Linked DNA regions of Homo sapiens. The protein of the gene in region 2 purifies or fractionates together with the protein of the main gene of each other region. This does not show direct contact. Each region holds a gene or a part of one and is shown on either strand. Other genes may lie near its edges.

The links.
Region 1: the proteins of MYH7 (region 2) and ATP6V1D purify together in Homo sapiens (affinity purification with mass spectrometry; one large-scale study listed by BioGRID and IntAct). This does not show direct contact.
Region 3: the proteins of MYH7 (region 2) and POLD1 purify together in Homo sapiens (affinity purification with mass spectrometry; one large-scale study listed by BioGRID and IntAct). This does not show direct contact.
Region 4: the proteins of MYH7 (region 2) and TAF11 purify together in Homo sapiens (affinity purification with mass spectrometry; one large-scale study listed by BioGRID and IntAct). This does not show direct contact.
Region 5: the proteins of MYH7 (region 2) and MFGE8 purify together in Homo sapiens (co-immunoprecipitation; one large-scale study listed by IntAct). This does not show direct contact.
Region 6: the proteins of MYH7 (region 2) and CLINT1 purify together in Homo sapiens (affinity purification with mass spectrometry; one large-scale study listed by BioGRID and IntAct). This does not show direct contact.
Region 7: the proteins of MYH7 (region 2) and PPP3R1 purify together in Homo sapiens (affinity purification with mass spectrometry, with the first as the bait; one large-scale study listed by BioGRID). This does not show direct contact.

The regions. Positions count from the first base shown.
Region 1 is NC_000014.9:67,346,305-67,349,804, forward strand, and holds part of ATP6V1D (V-type proton ATPase subunit D), read right to left. Parts: intron 2,801-3,500; coding exon 2,733-2,800; intron 1,150-2,732; coding exon 1,105-1,149; intron 1-1,104. UniProt on the Homo sapiens protein: Subunit of the V1 complex of vacuolar(H+)-ATPase (V-ATPase), a multisubunit enzyme composed of a peripheral complex (V1) that hydrolyzes ATP and a membrane integral complex (V0) that translocates protons.
Region 2 is NC_000014.9:23,415,451-23,418,660, forward strand, and holds part of MYH7 (myosin-7), read right to left. Parts: intron 2,957-3,210; coding exon 2,760-2,956; intron 2,614-2,759; exon of another isoform or gene 2,537-2,613; intron 2,237-2,536; coding exon 2,053-2,236; intron 1,924-2,052; exon of another isoform or gene 1,869-1,923; coding exon 1,703-1,868; intron 1,559-1,702; exon of another isoform or gene 1,543-1,558; coding exon 1,418-1,542; intron 863-1,417; coding exon 554-862; exon of another isoform or gene 551-553; intron 383-550; coding exon 179-382; exon of another isoform or gene 171-178; intron 57-170; coding exon 1-56. UniProt on the Homo sapiens protein: Myosins are actin-based motor molecules with ATPase activity essential for muscle contraction. Forms regular bipolar thick filaments that, together with actin thin filaments, constitute the fundamental contractile unit of skeletal and cardiac muscle.
Region 3 is NC_000019.10:50,387,347-50,390,846, reverse strand, and holds part of POLD1 (DNA polymerase delta catalytic subunit), read right to left. Parts: intron 3,188-3,500; exon of another isoform or gene 3,043-3,187; intron 1-3,042. UniProt on the Homo sapiens protein: As the catalytic component of the trimeric (Pol-delta3 complex) and tetrameric DNA polymerase delta complexes (Pol-delta4 complex), plays a crucial role in high fidelity genome replication, including in lagging strand synthesis, and repair.
Region 4 is NC_000006.12:34,878,043-34,881,542, forward strand, and holds part of TAF11 (transcription initiation factor TFIID subunit 11), read right to left. Parts: intron 2,335-3,500; coding exon 2,247-2,334; intron 2,022-2,246; coding exon 1,925-2,021; intron 679-1,924; coding exon 548-678; 3' UTR 1-547. UniProt on the Homo sapiens protein: The TFIID basal transcription factor complex plays a major role in the initiation of RNA polymerase II (Pol II)-dependent transcription.
Region 5 is NC_000015.10:88,900,782-88,903,379, forward strand, and holds part of MFGE8 (lactadherin isoform a preproprotein), read right to left. Parts: exon of another isoform or gene 1,402-2,598; intron 955-1,401; coding exon 770-954; intron 1-769.
Region 6 is NC_000005.10:157,849,146-157,852,645, forward strand, and holds part of CLINT1 (clathrin interactor 1), read right to left. Parts: intron 1-3,500. UniProt on the Homo sapiens protein: Binds to membranes enriched in phosphatidylinositol 4,5-bisphosphate (PtdIns(4,5)P2). May have a role in transport via clathrin-coated vesicles from the trans-Golgi network to endosomes. Stimulates clathrin assembly.
Region 7 is NC_000002.12:68,218,033-68,221,532, reverse strand, and holds part of PPP3R1 (calcineurin subunit B type 1), read left to right. Parts: intron 1-3,500. UniProt on the Homo sapiens protein: Regulatory subunit of calcineurin, a calcium-dependent, calmodulin stimulated protein phosphatase. Confers calcium sensitivity.

The DNA.
Region 1 (3,500 bases), about 44 Mb from region 2:
AATATTATTTGTTTATTTATTTATTGAGATGGGGTCTCACTCTGCCACCCAGGCTGGAGTGCAGTGGTGCGATCTCAGCTCACTGTAAGCTCCACTTCTCAGGCTCAAGCAATCCTCCCACCTCGGCCTCCCGAGTAGCTGGGACCACAGGCGCATGCCACCAGGCCCAGCTAATTTTTGTAACTTTTTGGGTGGAGACGGGGTTTCACCATGTTGCCCAGGCTGGTCTCAAACTCCTGGGCTAAGGTGATCCACCTGCCTCAGCCTCCCAAAGTGCTGGGATTGCAGGTGTGAGCCACTGTGCCTGGCCAAGAATATTGTTTCTATGAAAAAAGTTAATACTTTACTTTGGAAAGAAAATATGCTGTCAAACTAGGAATGGAATGAATAAGACAGTTATTTAAAAAGTGGAAGTGGGCTATAAAAATCTAGAAAGAATCAGCATTCAGGTTGCATCAGTGTCTAAGATCTTATTTGACTTTAAAGAGACCCAAACTGGGAATTATAAGCAGTGCATTGTGGGTGTAGGATATGCAGAAAAACAACACAGAAGTCTAATCAGTGAATTCATATTCAAAAGGCCTTATATTTTTTAAATAGCAAGTGATTCTACATTGATATATTTCTGATAAAATATTGAAATATTTTAAGATATGTATAATGTTTTATGACTTCCTAGCATAAGACCTTTTTCTTTTTTGAGACAAGGTTTTGCTCTGTAGCCCAGGCTGGAGTGCAGTGGCGTGATCAGAACTCGCTGCAACTACCTCCCCAGCTCAAGCAATCCTCCCTCCTCAGCCCTGGAAGTAGCTGAAACTACAGGCACGTGCCACCACACCTGGCTGATTTTTTATATTTTTTGTAGAGATGGAGATTTGCCTGCCTCAGCCTCCCAAAGTGCCAGTATTACAGGCATGAGCCATTGTGCCCGGCCTTAAGACCTTTTGATTAACTGATCAACTATTGTCCTGACTATATCAAATAAGAGGATTTCTAACTCAGGAACCTCTCAACATCTAGCACCATTTTCCAGAACTTAGTTCATTTAAAGAGGAAACAGGAAATCCCAGAGACACAAAGTAATACAAAAAGTTTCACACTTACTGTCAGTTCCTTCATGGTAATGTTCAAATACTGGCAAAGTAACACCTGTTAAACACAGAAGCATACATGGATTCATAAACCTTTAAGTTCTCTCTTTTTTTTTTTTTTCTGAGACGGAGTTTTGCTCTTGTCGCCGAGGCTGGAATGCAATGGCGTGATCTCGCCTCACCGCAACCTCTGCCTCCCAGGTTCAAGCAATTCTCCTGGTCAGCCTCCTGAATAGGTGGGATTACAGGCATGCACCACCACACCCGGCTAATTTTGTATTTTTAGTAGACACGGGGTTTCTCCATGTTGGTAAGGTTGGTCTTGAACTTCCGACCTCAGGTGATCCACCCGCCTAAACCTCCCAAAGTGCTGGGATTACAGGTATGAGCCACCGCGCCTGGCCTAAATTCTGTTTCTTAATCACTGTTTTCTGTGTTTCTTTTTCATCAAACTCAAAAATCAAGAGCTTAAGTATGGAATTGTAATTGGTTTCAATTAATGAATTTAGGAACTTGCCTTCTTTTTTTTTTTTTGAGACAGAGTCTCACTCTGTCGCCCAGGCTGCAGTGCAGTGGTGTGGTCTTCAGCTCACTGCAACCACCGCCTCCTGGGGTCAAGTGATTCTCCCACCTCAGCCTCCTGAGTAGCTGGGACAACAGGCACATGCCATGCCCAGCTAATTTTTTTTTTTTTTTAAAGATGAGTTTCGCTCTTGTTGCCTGGGCTGGAGTACAATGGCGCAATCTCGGCTCACCACAACCTCTGCCTCCTGGGTCCAAGTGAGTCTCCTGCCTCAGCCTCTCAAGTAGCTGGGATTACAGGCATGCGCTACCACGTCTGGCTTATTTTGTATTTTTAGTAGAGACAGGATTTCTCCATATTAGGCTGGTCTCGAACTCCCGACCTCAGGCGATCCGCCCACCTTGGCTTCCCAAAGCACTGGGATTACAGGTGTGAGCCATCACACCCGGCCTAATTTTTGTATTCTTTGGTAAAGATGGGGTTTCACCATGTTGGCCAGGCTGGTCTCGAACTCCTGACCTTGTGATCCGCCCACCTCAGCCTCCCAAAGTGCTGGGATTACAGGTGTGAGCCACCACATCCAGTGGAACCTGACTTCTTTATTTTTTTATTTTTTATTTTTAGACAGAGTCTTGCTCTGTCACCCAGGCTGGAGTGCAGTGGTGCAATCTCGGCTCACTGGAACCTCCGCTTCCCGGGTTCAAGCGATTCTCCTGCCTCAGCCTCCCAAGTAGCTGGGGCTACAGGCGCGTGCCACCAAACCTGGCTAATTTTTGTATTATTAGTAGAGATGGGGTTTCACCATGTTGGCCAGGCTGGTCTCGAACTCCTGACCTTGTGATTCGCCCACCTCGGCCTCCCAAAGTGCTGGGATTACAGGCATGAGCCACCGTGCCCAGCCGGAACCTGCCTTCTTAAGTGTTCACTTCTATACAAAAGTCAAGTTATCCTGAGTAATTAGAAACCTGGTTGTTAATGATTTTAACATGTAAAGCCAATCAACTTGTTCTAAGTAGAAGGAAGAAACTAGGACATTAAGATCTTGCTGTATAAACAGGTTAATTTTAAAATGTCACCTCTTTTCTCCCCAAAGGGTTTCTAAAAGGTTGAAACGTTACCTGCTACATTATCTTTCTTCGCTCGAATCTTCACTTGCGCTTTATTGACATTTTGGATAACTGTAGTGCTGCAGAAAAAGAGAAAGACTTTATTTAGCAGACTCTTCAGAAATAAACCTACAGGGACCCACTGGATAGTTTTAACATTAAATGAGACCAAGAGTGAGATGTCACAATTAAGTATGTTTTGATAACTGTCCTTTTTCCAAAAAGGGAGAAAAGTCATTACTGCTAGAGGAGGGCCTCTGAAAGCAGAGAATGAACAATATTCAAAACATTAGCAGTAAGAAAAGAACAAAGAATGATTTTAAAGTTCGTGGATTGCTTATGTTTTCAGTCAGAGGTGTGCTACATGGATATAACTTTAAGGATTCTTCTGCTAGTGTGAGATAGAGAAAACTCCTTTCTAGGTTTGCTATTGAATTGGTTAAGCTGGCGTTCAATTCCTTTACCCTGGAAACTATGTTCCATCTGGCTTTGTGTGACTTCTCAAATGTTACCAGAAAGTGCCTTCCTGGCAGGGTGCGATAGCTCACGCCTGTAATCCTGGCACTTTGGGAGGCCGAGGCAGGAGGATTGTTTGAGGCCAGGAGTTCAAAACCAGCCTGGGCAATGTGGTGAAACTCAAAAATACAAAAATTAGCCAGTCTCATAACCCAATCTCAAAACAAAACAAAAATAAATATTATAGAAAGTATCTTCCCCATAACCACCCTAAAACACTCACATACCACTTATACACTATTGATTGATCTCCACCCTCTGCTA
Region 2 (3,210 bases):
TGGAGCTGGGACAGGTCAGCATCCATCTTCTTCTTCTGGTTGATGAGGCTGGTGTTCTGGGTTGGGGGAGGGTTGGGCAGAGCAGGAAAAGCATTGAGCATCTATGCATAGCTCTCAAGCCTTGCTTGCTGAGCCCCAGCCTGTGCTCCCTTCAGGAATGAGCAGGGGAGCTGCTCACCTGGGAATGCAGCAGCTGCACCCGCTCACTAGTCTCAATCAGCTCCTGCTCCGCCAGCTTCCGGGACCGCTCTGTCTGCTCCACCACGGCACGCAACTCCTCCAGCTCAGCCTGCAGCAGGTTGTTGCGCCGCTCCACGATGGCGATGTTCTCCTTCAGGTCGTCGTTGGCACGGACTGCATCGTCCAGCTGAATCTGGGTGTCCTGAGGATCAGGAGAGTGGGCATGAGCAGGGAGCCAGCCTCGGTTCCCTTCACTAAAGGCACCTGTCAGAGGTCCCTGCAGTAACCTAGGGGCAGGAGGAATCTGGTGCCTGTATCAAGACACTACTGCTTCGCCAGGCCACGTGGAGGCCAGTCCCCTCTGGGTGAGTACCTTCAACAAGCTCTGGAGGCTCTTGACTTGCTTCTGGGCCTCGGCGGCCATGCGGTTGGCGTGGCTGAGCTGGATCTCCATCTCATTGAGGTCTCCTTCCATCTTCTTCTTCACCCTCAGGGCCTCGTTGCGGCTGCGTGTCTCTGCGTCCAGGGAGGTCTGCAGCGAGTCCACCACCCGCAGGTGGTTGCGCTTGGCCTGTTCCATCTCCTCGTCCTTCTCTGCCAGCTTCCGCTCGATCTCTGCCTTGATCTGGTTGAACTCCAGCTGGGCCCGGAGGATCTTGCCCTCCTCGTGCTCCAGGGAGGCCTGGGAAGGGGTTGGGGGAGGGGATGCAGGCAGACAGTCAGGGCACAGGGCAGGGTGGGGGCCTGCTCACTAATCATGGATACGAAGTGACTTCAAGAGTGGTGTAAGTGGTTCAAAGAAGCAGAAGGTGGAGGAAAAGAGAATCTAAGAGAAAATAAAAATAAGCCTAAGAGAAAGTGATTCAGGCCCTCACAGGGGAGAGCCAGCTATGAAGACAAGGAGGAAAATGAAGAGAAAAGTGTTGCCAAGGAAACAGAGGCAATCAGGTATAGAGTATAAAAGAAAACAGAGGGAGGCAGAGGTGGGAACCGGGAGGTATGTGGAAATGGGAAGCTCAGCTAAGATGCAATGGGTAAAATGTTTATGTGAAGAGAGTTCAGTGACTGGTCATTCATTCACTCCACAAATCTTCACTGAATGCCTACTATGTGCCAGGCTCTGTCCTAGGCTCTGGGGATGGGACAGTGAACAAAACGGACAAAGCGGGGGATGAGAACAGGGACCAAAAGCCTGGAGCTCAGCTCCCTGCACCCCGTGCCCTGCACACACACACACCTCGGCCTCCTCCAGGGCTGACTGCAGCTCCATCTTCTCGGCCTCCAGCTGCTTTCGGACCTTCTCCAGCTCATGGATAGTCTTTCCGCTGGAACCCAACTGCTCAGTCAAGTCGGAGATCTCCTCTGTGTGGGGAACACGGTAACTCGGTTGAGGGCTGCTGAGGTCCAGTGGAGTTGGAGGGACACGCCTCTTTGCCCAGACGCCTCTTGGAGCCCTTGGGTGGCACCATATGGGAACACTGCCAGTGCAGCCCCTCCCCAGCCTCTTGGGCCCCCAGCACACCCTGCAGGTTTTTGTTCTCCCGCTTGAAGGTCTCCAGATGTTCCAGGGACTCCTCATAGGCGTTCTTGAGTTTGAAGAGCTCTGTGCTGAGGGAGCGAGCCTCCTTCTGCGAGGACTCCAGCTCCGACTGCGACTCCTCATACTTCTGCTTCCACTCGGCCAGGATCTGCCCGGGGACAAGGCTCACTCTTCAGCCCCCCAGCCTCAGCCCCATGTCCAGGGTCTGTCTCAGGACCTGCCTGGGCTCAGCCCTCCTCCCCCACCTCCAAGGAGGATGGCTCTGGCCTCTCACTGAACCCCTCATGCCCCCTTGCCCTGCATGCTGGCTGCGGCCCCCACCCAGGGCCCACCTTGTCGAAGTTCCTCTGCTTCTTGTCCAGGGCTGCAGCAGCAGCATTGGAGCGCTCTACGTCCACCATCAAGTCCTCGATCTCATTCTGTAGCCGGTGCTTGGTCTTCTCCAGCGAGGAGCACTTGGCATTAACAGCCTCCACGGCCTCCTCAGCTTCCTGCAGCCGCTGGGCCAGCTTCTTCCTGCCCAGGGGAGGGTGGCAGAGGGTGGGGAGGATGGAGGGTGTGGATGGGGACAAGAGGAAACAACATGAACCTTCTCAAAGACAATCCTTGAAACCTCAGAAGTGTAGCTGGAGAAGCCTGAGGACAGGTCCCAGGGGCCGAGAACATCAGGCAGAGGATCCCAGCAGGGCGTGGAGACCCAGGCACCCTCTGACCCTGGCCCAGCCTCTGCGCTATGGACATTGAGGAGGTATGGGCTTCTGCAGCCCTCCCCACTGCCTTTCCCTGCCACAGTGCCCTGCCCCAGACGGAAGCACTCTGCCCTCAGACAAACCTTTTGTTCGTCTTATATTCGGATCAGAAACATAATTCGAGCAAAAAGCTTCCCTGAGAGGAGAAGGAGGTGGGGCCGGGGCAGAGTCCTCCTGTGTTGTCAAACACTAGCTAAGCATCGCCTGTGTGGGATCTGCTGAGGCTGGGGCTGGGCTGAGTCCTGCCTGCAAAGGGGCCTCAGCCAGAAGTCAGGCTGCTCAGAACTCACTTGGCCTCCTCGAGCTCCTCAGTCCGCTGAATGGCGTCCGTCTCATACTTGGTCCTCCACTGGGCCACCTCCGAGTTGGCCTTGGAAAGGACGCGCTGCAGCTCGGCCTTGGCCTCCGTCTCCTCCTCGTACTGCTCCCGCAGCAGGTCGCAGTCATGCCGGGCCGACTGCAGTGCGTGGGCCAGGGCGTTCTTCGCCTGGGGAGGGGTGGGCACCAGGAGGTGGGTTCAGCTTTCTCCATAAAGCAACCCCACCCTTGCCCTTCTCCTCACCCCAATCTCAACATCATCCCTTGGCCTCATCTATGTCCAAACCCCCAGTGGACCTGTCATGGTTTACTGTTTGCTGATAACAAAGAATGCCAATACAGCAGTGAACTATTTAAGAAAAGCTTCATGGCCATTGGCCCTGAGCTCCTCCCCACACCAGACATGGTCATCATCACCGCCAT
Region 3 (3,500 bases), on a different chromosome or scaffold from region 2:
TAAATGGATTAAGGGCGGTGCAAGATGTGCTTTGTTAAACAGATGCTTGAAGGCAGCATGCTCCTTAAGAGTCATCACCACTCCCTAATCTCAAGTACCCAGGGACACAAACACTGCGGAAGGCCGCAGGGCCCTCTGCCTAGGAAAACCAGAGACTTTTGTTCACTTGTTTATCTGCTGACCTTCCCTCCACTATTGTCCTATGACCCTGCCAAATCCCCCTCTCCAAGAAACACCCAAGAATGATCAATAAATACTAAAAAAAAAAAAAAAATAGTTCTCAAGAATAACTGTAGAATGTGCTAGGAATGCAATATCCTGAGATAAGGAGGGACTGGCTGAAACAGCCCAGGCTCTGTTCCAGTCCCTCCTAGAAACAGGATGTCCTTCATCATTTTAGCCCAACATGTCATGTTGCCTCCAGAATATAAAACCCAAGATGGTCTGCTTTCCAGGTACAAATGGGGTACACACAAATGAGACTCCATCCTCCCGGGGCAACCTTCCTGAGTCTCGGGAGATTGGCTCACAATGAATCCTATGCTTCGGTTTTCCCTTGTTGCCTAGCTGTAAATAATAAATTTACTTCATGTAACTTGAAAAAAAAAAAAGAAAAGAAAAGAAAAAAAGAAATTATTGGCCAGGCGCAGTGGCTCACACCTGTAATCCCAACACTATGAGAGGCTGAGGTGGGTGGATTACCTGAGGTCAAGAGTTTGAGACCAGCCTGGCCAACATGGTGAAACCCTGTCTCTACTAAAAATATAAAAATTAGCTGGGCGTGGTGCCAGGCGCCTGTAATCCTAGCTACTCGGGAGGCTGAGGCAGGAGAATTGATTGAACCTGGGAGGTGGAGGTTGCAGTGAGCCAAGATCGCACCACTGCACTCCAGCCTGGGTGACAATGAGGCTCTGTTTCAAAAAAGAAAAAAAAAACAAAACAAAAAACAAAAAAAAAAACAGGCTGGACATGGTGGCTCACGCCTGTAATCCTAGCACTTTGGGAGCCCAAGGCGGGCGGATCACCTGAGGTCAGGGGTTCGAGACCAGCCTGGCCAAAATGAAACCCCGTCTCTACAAAAAATACAAAAAAATTAGCCGGGCGTGGTGGTGCATGCCTGTAATTCCAGCTATTCGGGAGGCTGAGGCAAGAGAATGGCTTGAACCCAGGAGGCAGAGGTTGCAGTGAGCCGAGATAGTGCCACTGCACTCCAGCCTGGGCGATAGAGCAAGACTCAGTCTTGGAAAAAAAAAAAAAATAAGAAATTATTTATAGCCTTGAAGAATATTACAGGGACACGTGGCAGATCTAAATAAGAATCGTCTATTCAATAACGTCACTGTCTCATGTTAAACTGCATGATGATGACAATGACACTGTAGTTCTGCAGGCGGACATCCCTGTTCTTAAGAGCTGACTGCTGGAGGCCAGGTACGGTGGCTCACGGCTGTAATCCCAGGACATTTGGAGGCCGAGGCAGGGGGATTGCTTGAACCCAGGAGTTTGAGATCAGCCTAGGCAACATGGTGACACCCTGTCTCTATAAACAATATAAAAATTAGCAGGGTGTGGTGGCACACACCTTTAGTCCCAGCTACTCGAGAGGCTGAGGATCAGCTGAGCCTGGGGAGGTCGAGGCTGCAGTGAGCTGTGACCACCCCACTGCACTACAACCTGCATGACAGAGTAAAATACTGTACCAAAAAAAAAAAAAGAGGCCAGGTGCGGTGGCTCATGCCTGTAATCCCAGCACTCTGGGAGGCAGAGGCACGTAGATCATAAGGTCAGGAGTTCAAGAGCAGCCTGGCAAAGATGGTGAAACCCCATCTTTACTAAAAATACAAAAATTAGCCAGATGTGGTGGTGCGCGCCTATAGTCCCAGCTACTCAGGAAGCTGCAATAGGAGAATCGCTTGAACCTGGGAGGCAGAGGTTGCAGTGAGCCAAGGTCGCACCACTGTACTCCAGCCTGGGTGACAGAGCAAGACTCCGTCTCAAAAAAAAAAAAAAAAAAAAAAAAAGAGTTAACTGCTGGAGTTTTCAGAGGTGAAGTATCATGATGACCACAACTTTCAAATAGTTCAGCCAAAAAAAGGACAAAAGGTACAGGTATATGCATGTGCTTGGATAAAGCATAAAGCAAATGAGGTGTCATGCCAACAGCCAGTGAATCTAGGCAAAGGGCCATGGCTGTTCACTGTACTCAATTTGTACCTTCTCTGCAGGTTTGAAACTTTTCAAAATATTAAGGGGGAAATATATAAAATGAAAATAGTAACAAATTTACAAGGTGGGCAGAAGAGTATGTAGAAATCTTTTTGCTTTTAATGCAGGGAGTATGTAGACGTCTTTTTTATTGTAATGCAGGGAGTATGTAGACGTCTTTTTTATTGTAATGCAGGGCATATGTATAAATCTATTTGCTTTTAATGCATCATTCTATAAGGAGAGCTAAGAAACTGGTTTCCTGGGGGACAGGGTAGAAGACTTCATTTGCTAACTGCTTTATTGAGCTATAATTCACATACTATACAATTCACCCATTTAAAGTATATATAGTTCAATGGTATTTAGTATGTTCAGAGTTAGGCAACCATCACCACAGTCAATTTTAGAACTCTCTCATCACCCCAAAAAGCCTAAATCCTTTAGCTCTCTCCCTGCATTCAGCCCATCTGCCCCCACCCCTGGCAGCCACTCATCTAACTTTCTGTCTCCATGGATCTGCCTATTCTGGGCATTTCCTATAAATGGGATCTTGGAATATGCAGCCTCTTGTGTCTGGCTGCTTTCTCTGAATGTGTTCATCGCTCATGTGTGTGGCGGCCTTTCGTCAGTGCTGTGTCCCTTTTTTGCTGAGTACTTTTCCGCTGTATGGCTAGAACACGTCTGACGTATCCCTTCATCAGTGGATGGACATTAGGGTTGCTTCCACCTTTTGTGAGTGGTGCAGCCGTGAGCGTGTGCAGGGGGTTTTGTGTGAGGAAGACTTTGACTGCGTTTGTGCTCTTTGGGTGACAACCGCGTACATGTGTGACTTACAGGAAGAAGCAAGCGTCGTTAGCGGCTCTGGCTTCGGGTTGTGCAAGTAGCCAGAGAGGGACAGGGAGTGATGATCTGCGAGGAGAGACCCGGGTGGGACAGAGGAAGCGCAGGGGCTTGTGGGAGCCCAGAGTCAGTGCTGAAGCTGGAGGAGGAAGGAAGGAGCTGACTGGCTGCCCTTGGTCAGTTGGCTGTGGCTGCGGGGGTGCGGTGGGAGGGACGGTGTCACCAGGGGCAAAACCTGGGCTCTTGTTAGTGGAGGCACAGCAGCATTAGGAAGGAAAGGCCCCTGTGTGTCCCCTCTCATTGGCCCTGGCACAGGATGAGAGCTTGGCAAACACTGTCCTCTGCCCCTCTCACGACCCTTCGGTAGCAAGCACTTAACAGAGATTCAGCAACAAAATGACACCACGTGCTCGCTGCAGGCCAGACACCAGTTTTCTCGATGAGTGAGACAC
Region 4 (3,500 bases), on a different chromosome or scaffold from region 2:
AGTTCACGACCAGCCTGGGCAACAAAGCAAGACCCCATCTCCATAAAAAATAAAAATAAGTTAGCTGGGCACAGTAGTGTGTGCCTGTAGTCCTAGCTACTCAGGAGACTGAGGTGGGAGGGTCACTTAAGCCCAGGAGTTCAAGGCTGCAGTCATGCCGCTGCACTCCAGCCTAGGTGATAGAGCAAGACCCTATCTCAAACAAAACGAAACCAAAACAAAACAAAACTCTCTTGGAAAGGTTTTCTCTCTGAAAGCAGTTCCCCTGTCCAGAAGATGCTTATGGCCCACGTATCTTCTTCCAACTGGTCAAGACAGTTAAATACTTCAAAATGCCCCAAGAGGTCCCAAAATTTAGTCAAGGCAAGTATCAATCAGGCTACATACTTTCTAGGTGTGACAAATATCAGAGTTTTGAGAAAGACATTAAAATCATCATGGAATCCTTGGAGGCCTGAGATACTAAAGCACCAATGCAGACAGTCTTATAGGAAGTCTGGAACCAATACTTCTTCCGTCAGTAACATAGGCCTTTCTAGACTTTGGTCTAGAAGAAGATGATTTTTTTGTGCTTCGAGTTAGGGATCTGTCCTTTTGACTTTAACCTTCTAACGGCTTCCCTCATATGTTTGGGTTGTAGTGGTGGCATTTCTCCCCACTTCTCACACACATCCAGTGCTAAACAGAGGGTAAGGAGAAAGTCTGATTATCACACAATAATTTACTAATCACATAATCCTTTTGAGTCCTGTAATTCTTGTTAACTTTTCTTAAGCTTGCTAAGGAAATAAACAGACATTTTTCCTTTTTAAGAGAATATTAGTATAACGTCTCATAACAGGCTTTATCATAGACAACAGTTTAAAATATATTTCCTATAGGCCATATGCTGTGGCTCATGCCTATAATCCCAGCAGTTAGGGAGGCCAAGGTGGGAGGATTGCTTGAGCCTAGGAGTTCGAGACCAACCTGGGCAACATGGCCAAACCTTGTCTCTACAAAAAATTAAAAAGTTAGCCAGGGGTGGTGGTGCGCACCTGTGGTCTCAACTACTCAGACTGAGGCAGGAGAATCACCCGAGCCCAGGAGCTAACTGTTACAGTGAGCTGTGATCGCATGATCAAGGCACTCCAGCCTGGGTGACAGAGTGAGACCCTGTCTCAAATAACTACATAAAAATAAAATTAAAAATTAGCCAGGTATGGTAGTGCACGCCTACAGTCCCAGCTACTTGGGAGGCTGAGGCAAGAGGATCCTTTGAGCCCAGGAGTTTGAGGTTGTAGTGAGCTATGATCACACCACTGTTACCATCTCATTTTGTATACCATCTTAATTTGTGATTTGTAAAAGGAAAAATAAAAAATATTAAAAAAAATAATAAAGATCATGCCACTGCACTCCAGCCTGGGTGACAGAGTGAGACCCTGTCTCAAAAAATAATAATAATTTAAAAGTATATATCTCCTGCTCAAAAAAAAAAAAAAAATTTCACCAGCTAGAGTAGCAATGGGAAACAGCCAGGCTTTTTACTCAATAAAGGGGTCAGGCAGTTCCTAGGGATCACAACATTAGGGACAACTCACCATCCCACACAGGTCACCCCTGTGATTGCTTTTCTTGTATCTTTACTTTTGGCAGCAGAAATGAGCAAAGTCCACTGCAGAAAATACAAAGTCTACTTCTTTCACCCTGGGCTGAGGAAAGGAATCAGGGAGGGGATTTCCCAGATGGTTCCTTACCATCTGTTATTGAAACTTGCAAGGAATAACAGTCATGTTCTCCTAAATAAAGGGCTCCCCACTTGGTCAACTTCAAGTGCAAATGAGAACTCCCATAGGTGCTTTAATAAGCTCCTTTGTGTAGATATTCTTAAAAATAAGACCACCACAGGTACAATCCAGTATTTGTAACCAACACTACTCACCTTCTTCTACCACCTCCCCGACGAAAACCTTGGAAATACCAGACATAGCAATAACAACATTCTGAGACACAGAGGTGCCAGTGATGGACTGGATCAGCTTGAAAGAAGCACAAAGACTCCGTGATCACAATAGTCAAAGACTGGCTTTGGAACACAGTACCAAGTAATTCACAGAAAAAGGTAAGATAACTGAAGTGCATTTTTTTTCCCACCTAAATAATCCCCTGACTTGTCTAACACCTCACTTCAAATGCCAATGGACATGGCTCTTGAGTTCAGTTCTAAAACGTGATGGAGATGAAGTGTGGTGGTCCATCCTTACCCTTTTGATGGCTGCCTTAGGGAAAGCTGAGCGGCGATACATTTCATAACGGTTCAGCTGCTCCTCAGAAAAAGAAGAAACCAGGATTCTAAACAAAGATCCAGGTAACTAAGTTAACTTATAAGAACGAATACTCAAGATATTATGAAGTCAATAAAAGTTTCAGACAATTCAAAAACGAATTCTTAAAGGGGTCAATGGCATTAGGCTTGGTGCCTTGAGGAATGAAGATAAAACACTTCTACTCCAAAGGAATTTGAGAAAACGTAAAACAAAAACTTCTTTTCTTACCTGTTAACAAAAAGAACAACACTGGGTCACTGTATCGTACTACACAGACTGTTTGCAGCATTAGACACTATCTCCATAACTCTATCTTATTGAATTTCACACTGATGGTAAAAATTTAATATACAAATTTATAATCAAACCAGTAGTTTTCAACATTAACAGATTTAGGGGAAATATCTGCAAAATATGTGGAAACAGTTAATACTCCTAATGTATAATTCTTTCAAATGAATAAAGGGGCCATGTCAATTTTTGAAAATGAACAAAGTACATGAACAGGAAATTTACCAAAATACCAATGGTCAATCAACATGGGGGAAACAACCTTCATTATTAACTAAGGAAATATTATTTTCATAGATAACATTTTTCATAAATCAGACCACTATTAAAAAAAGAATGGTATTAGAATATGGGACACAAACACATGCTGGCAGAGTGAACTGGAACACCTTTTTGGAGAGAAATTTGGAAATACATATGAAAAGCCTTTGAAAATGTTCATACTATTTGAATTAGCAATTACACCTCTAGGAGTTTATCTTAGGAAGTAATGGACAAGTATGCAAAGATATGTCCAAAGATCCTCATCATAATGTCAAAAGTAAAAATACCCAACCAGAAGCACTATAGGGATTGGTTAAATTATAGTTCAACAACATAATGGGATACAATGTAGCCATTAAAAATTATGATTTATGAGCATATTTACTGACATGAAAATATTTAGCTATACATATCAAACATCTAAAAAAACTTTGAAAAGGTACATACCCAAACATTATACCCAACTATATACTTAGAGTGAACTCTGCGTGGTGAGTTTATGGGTGATTTTTTTCTATTTTTCTGTATTCTCTGAATTATTTGCAATGAGCCCATACTACTTTTACAATCAGAAAATGTAATAAAGCTATTTCTATTTTTAAGAAAACTATGACCTAGATGTATAATTAGTGACAT
Region 5 (2,598 bases), on a different chromosome or scaffold from region 2:
CTGTCACATGGTGGCTTCTTAGACACTGAGTCAGAGAATATGTATGCTGTGCTCAAGGGAGAGGTCCCAAGATGCCTGGGTCATGTCTCCCTCTTCCGCCTCCGCCCTGCTGTCTGTCCATAGGCTGAGCCTTGTCAATCCTGTGGCAGCCCATGGAATGGCTCTCCCCTTGTGTACACACATACACACACATTCACACACACACATTCACACACACACATTCACACACACACACACATTCTCACACACACATATTCACACACATTCACACATACACATTCACATACACATTCACATACACATTCACACACATTCACAAATACACATTCACACATACACATTCACACACACACATTCACACACACATTCTCACACACACATTCACACACATTCTCACACATTCACACACACATTCACACATTCACACACACACATTCACACATACACATTCACACACACATTCACACGCACGCATTCACACGCACGCATTCACACACACTCACATTCACACACATTCACACACTCACACACACACATTCACACACACACACACATACACACACACACCCTTTCTCCACCTTGGTGGAAGCAGGATCAAGAGAAGGGAGTACAGGTGGGAAGAAGAAAGAAAAGCCGAAGAAAAACAAGGCTTTTCCAGAACTCTTTTGGGGAGCAGAAGAGAAGCCTGGGCTGGAGAGAGGTCAAAGATCTGGCAGTCCCACCTCATCCCACCCAACCCCAGCCCCATATCCCAAGAAGGCTGACCCACCTGCAGCCACTGATCGTTACCGTAGCTCCCCGCAACCCAGGCGTTGAAGTTGCCCTGCTTGTCCAGCCGTGCATAGGAGGGGTTCCAGCTGAAGAGATGCAAGCCCCAGGTCTTGTAGCTGCTGGAGGCCGTGATCTGCTTGTCAGGGATGCTGTTATTCTTCAGGCCCAGGGGATTGGCGCATCCTGCCAGCAAGGTGGGCTGTCATCTGGATCTGGGATCCACAGCTCCCAGGGGCAGGAGCACAAGGCGATGAAGCAGAAAGAACTCTGTGGATCCTGACCAGCCCCTGTCATGCTCTTGGGCAACAGAAAGCAGCTCCATCCGCCTTGCAGGGCCAACTGTGCGACCTTCTCACTGCCGACCCCACCACCTCCTCACCTCAACCAGCCGGGCTCAGCTCCTCACAGATCACCCAAGACCTCCCACTCACCACCCTTCTCCTCTGCACCAGGGAAGGCCCCTGCTCCACCACCTCCTGCCCTCCTTCAATGCCTGACTTTGGAGACACCTCCTCCAAGAAGTCTGCCCTGACTACTTCACTTGGGCAGGATTTCTTCCTCTTCTGGACTCACAGCACTGCCCCCATCGCCTCGGCCTCCCATCCGTCCCATGGCACAGTCACTATCTACTTTAATAACAACCACATTGTTTATTCAGTGCTTACTTCAGTCATTTAACCTGCCACCAAAAAAAAAAAGAAAAAAAAACACTAAATGAAGTAGAAATTAGTAAGCCCATTCTATAGATGAGAAAACTGAAAGACATTAAGCATCATGCTCAAGTCACATACAAACTCCTAATGTCACACTATGACGTCACCTCTACCAGCTACACATCCCAGCTAGATGATGAAGGCCTGCCTAGTGACGACCCAGTGATGAACAGGACAACATCCCTGCCCTCCAGCAGCTGGCAGTTAGAGAAATCAGACAACTCCTGGGGCACAGGAACATCTCTATTTCCATTCCCCAGAAGCCCCCTGACTTAGTGTCTCCCAGAGGGCCTTCGCACACTCAAATGTTCTGGGGATGCTGTCACACAGGCCTGTGAGGGCTGGCCCGGGAAGCTGGCCTTTGTTTCACTCAGCCCTGCCCCAAACACTCAGGAATGTGCCGGGCTGCCTTGCACTTGTATCTGCACCTGCATATGGATAGAACAGTTGGGGATGGGCAAGAGATACAACTCCCAAGAGAATGATGGGGGTGTCTCCCACCTGGAAGAATCCTCACTCCACAAGTGTCTATCCCTCTGGGGAATTGAGGGAGGCAGGAGTGGACGGTGGGACTGGAGAGCCCCCTGCCCTCTGGGAGCCAGCTAAGTTATATCACTGCCCTCCAATACTCTCACCACTCAAGAGTACTGGGAGCCAGCTAAGTTATATCACTGCCCACCTGTACTCTCACCACTCAAGACATTTGCCTCCAGGGTGTGTTGACAATGCCTGCTGATGGTACCATCATCTCCTGATGGTGATGCACCAGGGAACCACCACCTTCCCCCTCAAAGAGAGGCTCCCGGGCTGAGAGCTGGTTGTCCCTTGGCCCCAGAAGAGGAGAGGCCTGAGGCAGGCTAAAACCTGGGCAGCTTTGCAGAGGACACCAATTCTGCACAATGTGCTCAACGCAGACCCCTCTACAGATCATCTGCTTCTAGTGGTTCATACCCTCCTCACTCTCAGCCTCCCCAGGAAGTCAGACAGCCTTTCTGGTAAAATGCAGTTGGAAGGGGCACCAGGGCAGGGACAGGACTGTCAGCTCCAGCACTCTAGGAAGTCCCTTCCTCTCTCTGGCTCTCAGTCTCCCCATCTATAAAATGAGATACTAGGG
Region 6 (3,500 bases), on a different chromosome or scaffold from region 2:
CAGCATTGCATGCTACAGAGAAATCATCTGTGAAAGGAAGAATCTATGATGCAGAAAACTTCATTGTTATTTTAAGAAATTGCCACAGCCACCCCAAACTTCAGCAATCCCACAACCCTGATAAGTCAGCAGCCATCAACATGGAGGCAAGATTTTCCACCAGCAGAATGATAAATACCTGCTGAAAGCTCAGATGGCTGTACTTTTTAGCAATAAGATATTTTTAAATTAAGGTATGTACTTTTTTAAACATAATACCATTGTGCATTTAATAGACTACCACATAGTGGAAACATAACTTTTATATGAACTGGGAAACTAAAAATTTGTATGACTTGCTTTATTCCAATATTCACTTTATTGCAGTGGTTTGGAACTAAACCTGTAATATCTCTGAGGTATGCCTGTATAACAATTTTTTTGTTTACATGATGTCTTGTAAAAGATTAGCATAAACTGCTAAATACATATTCTGAAAGTATATCATCTAGATTTAAATCTAGACTATCTTCTAGATGTGCTATCTGTGGCACACTCTTGGCATTCTGTGCCCAATTTCCTCATAAGAAAATTGAACATAACAATGTTGTCACCTTTGTTCTTGGCACATGGCAAATGCTCAATAACTATTAGCTTTTATTATTAGAAATATCTGGATTTAAAGGATATCCTCTGTAATAAATATCAACTTACCAAATTTAATGTATTCATTCAAAAATATTTGAGCGCCTACTATGTGTCATAATTGTTCTAAGAGTTAGTAATACAGCAGTAAACAAAACAAAGTTCCTGCCCTCAAGGAACTTGCATATCAGAGGCAGGAGATGAATACATGTAACAGAGGAAGGCAAGCACAGAAAAAAATAGTGACGAGTGTGAGTGCATACTATGTAATACAGGAGGTCCACTGAACAGAACAGAGAAAGTGAGGGACAGTGGTGGGAGAAGAGATCACAGGCGGGGCAACAAAGAGCCAGATCTGTACAGGCAATTAAGCAATGAGATGAGAAGCCACTGGAGAATTCTGAACCCATTTGACTTAGTATTTTTAAAGAATCCCTCTCGCTGCTGAGTGGACAGCAGATGACAGGGCTAAACATTTTACATGCTTAGTGAGAAACAGGCCATCCTTCAAAGCCCCATTCAGTACCGAACTTATAAGCCAAATACATCAAACTAAGGATATTACTGGCTGGGCACAGTGGCTCACGCCTATAATCCTAGCACTTTGGGAGGCTTGAGGCGGGCGGATTGCCTGAGCTCAAGAGTTTGAGCCCAGCCTGGGGAGCATGATGAAACCCTATCTCTACAAAAAATTAGCCGGGCATGGTGGTAAGCACCTGTAGTCCCTCTTACTTGGGGGACTAAGGTGGGAGGATGGATTGAGCCCAGGAGGTCAAGGCTGCAGTGAGTCAAGATCGTGCATGCCACTGCGCTCCAGCCTGGGTACAAGTGAGACCCTGTCTCAAAAAAAAAAAAAAAAAAAAAAAAAAATTATTTAACCATGGGGGTTTAACTACAAATTAAGACATGTAGTTTCAACCGTATAACCTAAGTCACTTTAAAAAGTGATAAATGAAAAATTAGTATGAGAAAAATTAATAGAAAAAGGCTCAGTATGCCTATTAGCATTGTTCTTTTTTTTAATATTAAAAAAAATTTTTTTAGAGACAAAGTTTCACTCTGTTGCCCAGGCTAGAGTGCAGTGGCACAATCACAGCTCACTGCAGCTTTCAACTCCTGGGTTCAAGTGATCCTCCCATTTCAGCCTCCCATGTAGCTGGGACTATAGGCATGCATCACCATGTCCGGCTAATTTTTTAATTTTTTTGTAGAGACAAGGTCTGTGTTGCCCAGGCTAGTCTTGGACTACTGGGCTCAAGAGATCTTCCCTTCTCGGCCTCCCAAAGTGTTGGGATTACAGTTGTGAGCCACGGCACCTGGCCTTGCACTGTTCTTTAATGATTTACTAAAAATGCATGAAAACAAATGGCAAACAAACAAACAAACAAAAAACCCGAAAATTGAATTTTCAATGCATGCCTTTTTTCTACTATAAAAATATAAGCTATTTGAATGAGAATTCTTGAATGAAACATTTCATTCAATAGTTGTTGAAAAAGCACGCATGTACGTTTACCACATAATGATGAGTGTGTGCAAAATTATAAAAGATTATTTATATTAAAGTTATCTAGAACTTAAATACTGTCCTAAGAATTGAGAAGCTAAATAAAATTCATGTCAAAACAAATATTCTAGGCCAGGCACAGTGGCTCACACCTGCAATTCCAGCATTTTGGGAGGCCACGGTGGGTAGATTGCTTGAGCTCAGGAGTTCGAGACCAGCCTGGGAAATGCGGCAAAACTCCATTTCTACCAAAATACAAAAATTAGCTGGGTGTTGTGACATGTGTCTGTCGTCCCAGCTACTTGGGAGGATCGCTTAAGCTACTTGGGAGGATCGCTTAAACCTAGGAGGCTGAAGCAGAGATGGCACCATTACACTCCAGCCTGAGTGACAGAGCAAGACCCCGTCTCAAAAAAAAAAAAAAAAAAGAAATGAAATATTCTAAAATTGGCTAACTAGACTCTTCTTAAATGAAGTACAAACCATTCATGTGCACTGTTGCACATTAACAAAATCACTCACATTTAATAATTCGTTAGCTAAATCTATCCACAAGTAATAAGTAGCTATAAATTGGCTCAAACATAGGAATATATTACGTTCCTTTACCTGTATTTAATTTTCAGGCAAAAGAGCCCTGGTAAGCCAAATAATTTCTTGCCAATTTGAGGGGTTGAATAACCAGAAAGCCCTTTCTCCAATGTGCTTTCCTTGTATATACTGTTTGTCCATTGTCAAACACCATGAATTTGGTATCACATATTTTAGAGGATTCTTTTTCTTGATATTGTTCAGTCTCTTAAGAATAAATTGTCTGCTTCAATTTGCATTTATGAAATAAATCTTTTTATGTTTTAGTAATGTTTTACATTAGCAGTTACTTTAAAATCTTGAGAATACACAAAACAAGCTGAACAAAATATTAAGAATTGGCAGATGGAATTCGCGATATGTCTTTCCAAAGACTTTATTCCTCAACATGTCTTTTGAAAGGGTATTTCTGCAATATGCTTTGCAATATTAAAGTAGAAGCCATTTATGATTTAGCAAAAATAATACAAGGCATAAACAACAGAGGTATTTAAATTAGCTGTCCTATATGTAGGCTAAACTGAGTCTTAAGAGAGAGTACTCACTGAAAATAATGATTTCATGGATGAAGATATAGTTCCTACATACTTACAAATAACCTAGTCTGACAATGATATCTCTATTTTCACAAACACTGTATTCCTTTGATTTTTCTAGTGTTATACTGTTTTGTGTGTAACAGTAATAACAGTAATAGATGTTTCAAGAGTTTACTGTATGTCAAGTACTATACTGTTTCACATTTAATCCTCATAATCCTATAAAATATCATCTCTAT
Region 7 (3,500 bases), on a different chromosome or scaffold from region 2:
AGTGAACAGTTCAGTGACATTTGTTTATTTATTTATTTACAAAGTCTTGCTTGGTTGCCCAGGCTGGAGTGCAGTGGTGTGCTCAAGGCTCACTGCACCCTTGACCTATCAGGCTCAAGCAGTTATCCCATATCACCCTCCTGAGTAGCCGAGACTACAGGCATATGCTAACATGCCTGGCTCGTGTTTTTGTTTTTATTTTTGAGGTGGAGTCTCGCTCTGTTGCCCAGGCTGGAGTGCAGTGGTGCAATCTCTGCTCACTGCAGCCTCCACCTTCAGGTTCAAGAGATTCTCTTGCCTCAGCCTCTCGAGTAGCTGGGATTACAGGCACCCGCCACCATGCCCAGCTAATTTTTGTATTTTTTGTAGAGACAGATTTCACCATGTTGACCAGGCTGGTCTTGAACTCCTGACCTCAAGTGATCTGCCTGCCTCGGCCTCCCAATGTGGTGGGATTACAGGCGTGAGCCACCATGCCTGGCCTTTTTTGTATTTTTTGTAGAGACAGTGTTTTGCCATGTTGCCCAGGCTGGCATTTATAATGTAGTACAACCACCACCTCTATGTCATTCGAAAATATTTTCATCACCCTAAAAGGAAACCCCATAGCCAAAAAGTAATTGTTCACCATTCCTCCTCCCCCAGCAACTGGCACCCACCAGTCTCTACATTCTGTTTCTGTGTAACTGGCACCCACCAGTCTCTACATTTTGTTTCTGTGTATTTTCTTTATCAGTATATTTCATATAAATGGAATCATAAAATGTGGCCTTTTGTTTTTGGCTTCTTTTACTTACCATGATTTTGAAGTTCATCCATTTTATAGCGTCCTATTATGTTTTATATTGGATGTCATACATACATTGTGAATCTTATGCTGTTGTGCTAGATTTTGTTTTATTCCTTTAAAGAACGTAAGAGTTTGTTTTGCCATCCACTTAAGTTACTGAGACCCAAATTTGATCTGAGATTTGTTTTCTATCTTTCTTAAGGTAAGTAAAGAACAGCCTTTAATTCATGGCCAATATAGTCGTTCTGAGGACTGGACCCAATTCCCTGTGTATTTACAAGTTTCTCCAGTTTGGCCCATGGGATCATGAACTATTCCTAGCTCTGTGCAAACTCCCAAAAGTTATTCAACCTGCTACTAGTTCTTTTCCTGGACTTGGGGAGTTTCCTCTCAAACTTATGCAGAGACTGGAGGAGACTTTTATGCAGATCTCCAAAGTTCTCTCATGTGTCTCCCTTTTCTGAAGTACTCTTCCTCACAAGTCTCACCTCCTTGGCCATACGAACTTCATGTATCTCTGACTTCTCAATTTGGCGATGTCTCGGGATTGTGTTTCTGTTCTCTGTTCCTGTGCTGCAACCTGGAAACTTTCTCCAGACAGTAAGCTGGGACATAGATCCTAAGGGCTTTACCTCTTTTGTTTTCTTATATAGATGATCACAGAAAATGCCTGATAAATGTTGTTTGATAAAATTTTTCTGATTTACTAGTTTTTTTTAACACTGGTCAAGTGGTTCATATAGCATTTCTCCCCCATGGGCAGATGTTACTGAATTTTTAAATCAGTATAGTGTAAGGGGAGTCTATCTTGAACTTCAGGCAAATGGATTTATTTAAGGACCTCATCAACAAGTGATCTTGTCAGTAACTTGGTCATGTGGCATGATGTTTGAATTCTTCAAGTGTTCTTATGTAAACTTAAAACATGTTAGCTTTAGGACTTTTTTCATATTTAGATATAATTTTATGGTTTTGTTTAGTTGAGTGGTTCTCTTAGAAGTAAATGTCAGTACCTTATTGGGTATGTCTCTCACAGTATCTATCATTATTTTAGTATTTCCCAACCCTAGACTGGAGCTATTGGCTACAAATTCACTGCAGAATTAATTTACCTTCAGAAATGCTATTTTTTCCAGTTAAGTCTGATATAATAATTTACAAACTGATGTGTATTTTTTGTTAAATGTAATTATGCATTAGGTTCAGGGATCAATAAACTATAGCCCACACACCAAACCTGAATGAAACAATTACTGATAAATGTAATACTCCCAGGTAGTAGCTTAAGAAGCTGAACGTGAGGGGGTGTGGAGAGGAGTATAAAGGGGAATCTCCAAAACTCCTGTTTTTACTAATGACTAAGCATGAGGAAGACTGAACGTGGAACAAAATTATATTGACCATATTGACAAAATTATCTTTATATTGCCATGTTTTGCTTTGGTTTCCTTTTTTAAATGGAAGGTAGACTATGAAGACATTCTTGCTGTGAAAGTTCAAACAATACAGAATTTGAAGTAAAAAGTGGGGAGTGTAGGATAGAGATGGTGGTGCTGTTTGGGAGAGTGACTACAGAGATACGAGTTCTCTTAATTAAAGGACTTTACTTAGCTTTCTAAAGAGTGTTGGTTTTTATTCTGAAGGCAGGTGGGAGCTATTGAATTTTAGCAGAGATGTGATGTGGTCAGTTTGGGACAGATTGTGGTTGCAGTAGTGTTTTGGATATATGCATTCCAAGTTTAGGAGCAAGACGAGTTATTCTTTGTTAATGGGAAAGTCCTTAGGAGCCCTGGACTGGTTGGTTCTTAGGTCTTGTGGACGTTGTCTAGTTGGGAATGATACAGATAAATAGGTGAGATAGATGGTATCATTTAGAAAGAATTGATAACACTGTAAAGGTCAGTGAACTGGAGAAACAAGGACCTGGTTTTAAAATCCTGCTTGAAACCACCACATAACACTTTTTTACCTTCACTTATAAAACAGTAATGATACTTATTTAAAAAAAAAAAAACTCACAGTGACAGTGCAAATTTTAGTAAATAAAATACCGGTATGCTCTTGAGAGTCTTGCAAGAAACATACTTAACTTTAAGGTGGAGTGGAATAAGGAAAAAAAAACATTAAAAAAATTAAGACAGCAAGAATATGTAAGGCAGTGAAGATAAGAATCATGGTAAGAATATTAAGATCAATTAAGTAATGTGCAAAGTAAGCAGAAATCCATCTCTGTTCATTAATATCAAGCTTTATTAATGTTTGCTTTCTTTTATCCTCACTTTAACATATTTGATATTTAAAGTGACCTAATATTAAATTAACCAGTTCTGGAAAATTGCAATTATCTGCTATAACTTGCAAGAAAAAGACTAGCTATTGGCAATATGTCAGTTAATTGAATGTGGTAATTTACTGATTAGCCTTTAAGTTTACATAAGATTAAAGGTACGTTGAGGAGTTTAAAAGCCAGCCAGTCATACTAAAAAAAAGAATTCAGGTTTTCAGTAGCTTCTGAAGATATATATTTAAATATGCCCATGTTAATTGTACACTTAAATTAATAGCAACTGTATACTTACTGCTATTTAATTGCTAGGCAGGGTCAAGGTTAGATAAATAGAATATAGGATGCTTCGTATTCAATTTACCACTGAACTTTAAAAACTTAATTTATATTACTTTAAATTCTGTAGACGTTTTTAAAGACCTT